Homo sapiens: one gene and its partner. The protein of the gene in region 1 purifies or fractionates together with the protein of each later gene. This does not show direct contact. Each region holds a gene or a part of one and is shown in the gene's direction. Other genes may lie near its edges. The genes, in order: KLK4 and SERPINA1.

Region 1 (3,063 bases):
CACCATCCGGAGCATCAGCATTGCTTCGCAGTGCCCTACCGCGGGGAACTCTTGCCTCGTTTCTGGCTGGGGTCTGCTGGCGAACGGTGAGCTCACGGGTGTGTGTCTGCCCTCTTCAAGGAGGTCCTCTGCCCAGTCGCGGGGGCTGACCCAGAGCTCTGCGTCCCAGGCAGAATGCCTACCGTGCTGCAGTGCGTGAACGTGTCGGTGGTGTCTGAGGAGGTCTGCAGTAAGCTCTATGACCCGCTGTACCACCCCAGCATGTTCTGCGCCGGCGGAGGGCAAGACCAGAAGGACTCCTGCAACGTGAGAGAGGGGAAAGGGGAGGGCAGGCGACTCAGGGAAGGGTGGAGAAGGGGGAGACAGAGACACACAGGGCCGCATGGCGAGATGCAGAGATGGAGAGACACACAGGGAGACAGTGACAACTAGAGAGAGAAACTGAGAGAAACAGAGAAATAAACACAGGAATAAAGAGAAGCAAAGGAAGAGAGAAACAGAAACAGACATGGGGAGGCAGAAACACACACACATAGAAATGCAGTTGACCTTCCAACAGCATGGGGCCTGAGGGCGGTGACCTCCACCCAACAGAAAATCCTCTTATAACTTTTGACTCCCCAAAAACCTGACTAGAAATAGCCTACTGTTGACGGGGAGCCTTACCAATAACATAAATAGTCGATTTATGCATACGTTTTATGCATTCATGATATACCTTTGTTGGAATTTTTTGATATTTCTAAGCTACACAGTTCGTCTGTGAATTTTTTTAAATTGTTGCAACTCTCCTAAAATTTTTCTAATGTGTTTATTGAAAAAATCCAAGTATAAGTGGACTTGTGCAGTTCAAACCAGGGTTGTTCAAGGGTCAACTGTGTACCCAGAGGGAAACAGTGACACAGATTCATAGAGGTGAAACACGAAGAGAAACAGGAAAAATCAAGACTCTACAAAGAGGCTGGGCAGGGTGGCTCATGCCTGTAATCCCAGCACTTTGGGAGGCGAGGCAGGCAGATCACTTGAGGTAAGGAGTTCAAGACCAGCCTGGCCAAAATGGTGAAATCCTGTCTGTACTAAAAATACAAAAGTTAGCTGGATATGGTGGCAGGCGCCTGTAATCCCAGCTACTTGGGAGGCTGAGGCAGAAGAATTGCTTGAATATGGGAGGCAGAGGTTGAAGTGAGTTGAGATCACACCACTATACTCCAGCTGGGGCAACAGAGTAAGACTCTGTCTCAAAAAAAAAAAAAAAAAAAAGACTTTACAAAGAGATGCAGAGACACTGAGACAGATAAACAAGCCACAAAGGAGACAAAGGAGAGACAGACAAACAGAAACAGACAGACCACAAGCCCAAGAGAAGCAGCCAGCATTCAGGACATAGGACATCGGGAAGCAGGATTAGATGAAGTCAGGGATCTGGAATGGGACTTCCAACAGATATGTTGCTGGGCTATGTTGTTATTGATGATGGTTCTGTCTTTGTTTCTCAGTCTCATTTAGTTCCTTTCTGAGCCCACATCCATTTCCACCTCTCTGTGTTTTGAATTCTGACTCTCCCTCTCTTCACAACAGGGTGACTCTGGGGGGCCCCTGATCTGCAACGGGTACTTGCAGGGCCTTGTGTCTTTCGGAAAAGCCCCGTGTGGCCAAGTTGGCGTGCCAGGTGTCTACACCAACCTCTGCAAATTCACTGAGTGGATAGAGAAAACCGTCCAGGCCAGTTAACTCTGGGGACTGGGAACCCATGAAATTGACCCCCAAATACATCCTGCGGAAGGAATTCAGGAATATCTGTTCCCAGCCCCTCCTCCCTCAGGCCCAGGAGTCCAGGCCCCCAGCCCCTCCTCCCTCAAACCAAGGGTACAGATCCCCAGCCCCTCCTCCCTCAGACCCAGGAGTCCAGACCCCCCAGCCCCTCCTCCCTCAGACCCAGGAGTCCAGCCCCTCCTCCCTCAGACCCAGGAGTCCAGACCCCCCAGCCCCTCCTCCCTCAGACCCAGGAGTCCAGCCCCTCCTCCCTCAGACCCAGGAGTCCAGACCCCCCAGCCCCTCCTCCCTCAGACCCAGGGGTCCAGGCCCCCAACCCCTCCTCCCTCAGACTCAGAGGTCCAGGCCCCCAACCCCTCCTTCCCCAGACCCAGAGGTCCAGGTCCCAGCCCCTCCTCCCTCAGACCCAGCGGTCCAATGCCACCTAGACTCTCCCTGTACACAGTGCCCCCTTGTGGCACGTTGACCCAACCTTACCAGTTGGTTTTTCATTTTTTGTCCCTTTCCCCTAGATCCAGAAATAAAGTCTAAGAGAAGCGCAGGTTCTGTTTGTAGTGTCCTCCTTGCTTCCCCTTCCATTCAAGAGATTCCAGCAAATGGCTTTCCCTCCATGGGTCGCATTTCCCTATCTGGGAAATGCGAGCTTTGACCAGGAGGGCCACAGAGTTTCAGAGGGAGGGGCCATTCCCTGGATAGTTAAGAGAAACCAGTGCCATGGATGTTGTCCAGTTTCTGAAAAGTCAGGTCAGCAAATGGTAACCGTAGAGATTTTCTTGCTTAGTTTAACTATTCAGCTTTAGTTGATCTATATTCATTTTTGTCTTCTTAACTGCATTTCAAGAATTTTTAATTTGCATGTGTCTCAGAAGTTGGCTGCTGCAGCTAGAGTCTAGTGGGGAGAATTGTGGCGAGGGCTACTGTGAGTGACAGCAACAGAGACCAAGGAGTAGAAAGAGGGAAGTTTGAGGGGCACAATGGGGCAACTGAGGGGCAAGGAGATGGGAGACTGAATAAGTATATAGATAATTTGAACAGTATGATTAACATACTCTATTTAATGGTCATATATGGAATGTTGCACCCAGTATCTGAAAAATATAGAATCATTTCAAAAGACATACAGCTACCAGAATGGCTAAAATTGAAAAGAATAACAGCATCAAGTCTTGGTTATATCTACAGCAGCTGTAACTCTCCTACATTGCTGGGGGTAGGGGGTAAAATGCTACAACCATTTTGGAAAACAGCTTGGCAGATTCTTAGAAAGACAGGCATACATCCACATGACGG
Region 2 (3,500 bases), on another chromosome or scaffold:
ATACCATTCTTGCTGTCAGGTTTTTTTAGGATTAAACAAATGACAAAGACTGTGGGGATGGTGTGTGGCATACAGCAGGTGATGGACTCTTCTGTATCTCAGGCTGCCTTCCTGCCCCTGAGGGGTTAAAATGCCAGGGTCCTGGGGGCCCCAGGGCATTCTAAGCCAGCTCCCACTGTCCCAGGAAAACAGCATAGGGGAGGGGAGGTGGGAGGCAAGGCCAGGGGCTGCTTCCTCCACTCTGAGGCTCCCTTGCTCTTGAGGCAAAGGAGGGCAGTGGAGAGCAGCCAGGCTGCAGTCAGCACAGCTAAAGTCCTGGCTCTGCTGTGGCCTTAGTGGGGGCCCAGGTCCCTCTCCAGCCCCAGTCTCCTCCTTCTGTCCAATGAGAAAGCTGGGATCAGGGGTCCCTGAGGCCCCTGTCCACTCTGCATGCCTCGATGGTGAAGCTCTGTTGGTATGGCAGAGGGGAGGCTGCTCAGGCATCTGCATTTCCCCTGCCAATCTAGAGGATGAGGAAAGCTCTCAGGAATAGTAAGCAGAATGTTTGCCCTGGATGAATAACTGAGCTGCCAATTAACAAGGGGCAGGGAGCCTTAGACAGAAGGTACCAAATATGCCTGATGCTCCAACATTTTATTTGTAATATCCAAGACACCCTCAAATAAACATATGATTCCAATAAAAATGCACAGCCACGATGGCATCTCTTAGCCTGACATCGCCACGATGTAGAAATTCTGCATCTTCCTCTAGTTTTGAATTATCCCCACACAATCTTTTTCGGCAGCTTGGATGGTCAGTTTCAGCACCTTTTACAGATGATGAAGCTGAGCCTCGAGGGATGTGTGTCGTCAAGGGGGCTCAGGGCTTCTCAGGGAGGGGACTCATGGTTTCTTTATTCTGCTACACTCTTCCAAACCTTCACTCACCCCTGGTGATGCCCACCTTCCCCTCTCTCCAGGCAAATGGGAGAGACCCTTTGAAGTCAAGGACACCGAGGAAGAGGACTTCCACGTGGACCAGGTGACCACCGTGAAGGTGCCTATGATGAAGCGTTTAGGCATGTTTAACATCCAGCACTGTAAGAAGCTGTCCAGCTGGGTGCTGCTGATGAAATACCTGGGCAATGCCACCGCCATCTTCTTCCTGCCTGATGAGGGGAAACTACAGCACCTGGAAAATGAACTCACCCACGATATCATCACCAAGTTCCTGGAAAATGAAGACAGAAGGTGATTCCCCAACCTGAGGGTGACCAAGAAGCTGCCCACACCTCTTAGCCATGTTGGGACTGAGGCCCATCAGGACTGGCCAGAGGGCTGAGGAGGGTGAACCCCACATCCCTGGGTCACTGCTACTCTGTATAAACTTGGCTTCCAGAATGAGGCCACCACTGAGTTCAGGCAGCGCCATCCATGCTCCATGAGGAGGACAGTACCCAGGGGTGAGGAGGTAAAGGTCTCGTCCCTGGGGACTTCCCACTCCAGTGTGGACACTGTCCCTTCCCAATATCCAGTGCCCAGGGCAGGGACAGCAGCACCACCACACGTTCTGGCAGAACCAAAAAGGAACAGATGGGCTTCCTGGCAAAGGCAGCAGTGGAGTGTGGAGTTCAAGGGTAGAATGTCCCTGGGGGGACGGGGGAAGAGCCTGTGTGGCAAGGCCCAGAAAAGCAAGGTTCGGAATTGGAACAGCCAGGCCATGTTCGCAGAAGGCTTGCGTTTCTCTGTCACTTTATCGGTGCTGTTAGATTGGGTGTCCTGTAGTAAGTGATACTTAAACATGAGCCACACATTAGTGTATGTGTGTGCATTCGTGATTATGCCCATGCCCTGCTGATCTAGTTCGTTTTGTACACTGTAAAACCAAGATGAAAATACAAAAGGTGTCGGGTTCATAATAGGAATCGAGGCTGGAATTTCTCTGTTCCATGCCAGCACCTCCTGAGGTCTCTGCTCCAGGGGTTGAGAAAGAACAAAGAGGCTGAGAGGGTAACGGATCAGAGAGCCCAGAGCCAAGCTGCCCGCTCACACCAGACCCTGCTCAGGGTGGCATTGTCTCCCCATGGAAAACCAGAGAGGAGCACTCAGCCTGGTGTGGTCACTCTTCTCTTATCCACTAAACGGTTGTCACTGGGCACTGCCACCAGCCCCGTGTTTCTCTGGGTGTAGGGCCCTGGGGATGTTACAGGCTGGGGGCCAGGTGACCCAACACTACAGGGCAAGATGAGACAGGCTTCCAGGACACCTAGAATATCAGAGGAGGTGGCATTTCAAGCTTTTGTGATTCATTCGATGTTAACATTCTTTGACTCAATGTAGAAGAGCTAAAAGTAGAACAAACCAAAGCCGAGTTCCCATCTTAGTGTGGGTGGAGGACACAGGAGTAAGTGGCAGAAATAATCAGAAAAGAAAACACTTGCACTGTGGTGGGTCCCAGAAGAACAAGAGGAATGCTGTGCCATGCCTTGAATTTCTTTTCTGCACGACAGGTCTGCCAGCTTACATTTACCCAAACTGTCCATTACTGGAACCTATGATCTGAAGAGCGTCCTGGGTCAACTGGGCATCACTAAGGTCTTCAGCAATGGGGCTGACCTCTCCGGGGTCACAGAGGAGGCACCCCTGAAGCTCTCCAAGGTGAGATCACCCTGACGACCTTGTTGCACCCTGGTATCTGTAGGGAAGAATGTGTGGGGGCTGCAGCTCTGTCCTGAGGCTGAGGAAGGGGCCGAGGGAAACAAATGAAGACCCAGGCTGAGCTCCTGAAGATGCCCGTGATTCACTGACACGGGACGTGGTCAAACAGCAAAGCCAGGCAGGGGACTGCTGTGCAGCTGGCACTTTCGGGGCCTCCCTTGAGGTTGTGTCACTGACCCTGAATTTCAACTTTGCCCAAGACCTTCTAGACATTGGGCCTTGATTTATCCATACTGACACAGAAAGGTTTGGGCTAAGTTGTTTCAAAGGAATTTCTGACTCCTTCGATCTGTGAGATTTGGTGTCTGAATTAATGAATGATTTCAGCTAAAGATGACACTTATTTTGGAAAACTAAAGGCGACCAATGAACAACTGCAGTTCCATGAATGGCTGCATTATCTTGGGGTCTGGGCACTGTGAAGGTCACTGCCAGGGTCCGTGTCCTCAAGGAGCTTCAAGCCGTGTACTAGAAAGGAGAGAGCCCTGGAGGCAGACGTGGAGTGACGATGCTCTTCCCTGTTCTGAGTTGTGGGTGCACCTGAGCAGGGGGAGAGGCGCTTGTCAGGAAGATGGACAGAGGGGAGCCAGCCCCATCAGCCAAAGCCTTGAGGAGGAGCAAGGCCTATGTGACAGGGAGGGAGAGGATGTGCAGGGCCAGGGCCGTCCAGGGGGAGTGAGCGCTTCCTGGGAGGTGTCCACGTGAGCCTTGCTCGAGGCCTGGGATCAGCCTTACAACGTGTCTCTGCTTCTCTCCCCTCCAGGCCGTGCATAAGGCTGTGCTGACCATCGACGAGAAAGG

What was found.
Region 2: the proteins of KLK4 (region 1) and SERPINA1 purify together in Homo sapiens (affinity purification with mass spectrometry; one large-scale study listed by BioGRID and IntAct). This does not show direct contact.

The regions. Positions count from the first base shown.
Region 1 is NC_000019.10:50,905,602-50,908,664, reverse strand, and holds the end of KLK4 (kallikrein-4 isoform 1 preproprotein), read left to right. Parts: coding exon 1-86; intron 87-169; coding exon 170-306; intron 307-1,578; coding exon 1,579-1,731; 3' UTR 1,732-2,314; downstream 2,315-3,063. UniProt on the Homo sapiens protein: Has a major role in enamel formation. Required during the maturation stage of tooth development for clearance of enamel proteins and normal structural patterning of the crystalline matrix.
Region 2 is NC_000014.9:94,378,603-94,382,102, reverse strand, and holds part of SERPINA1 (alpha-1-antitrypsin precursor), read left to right. Parts: intron 1-961; coding exon 962-1,232; intron 1,233-2,491; coding exon 2,492-2,639; intron 2,640-3,462; coding exon 3,463-3,500.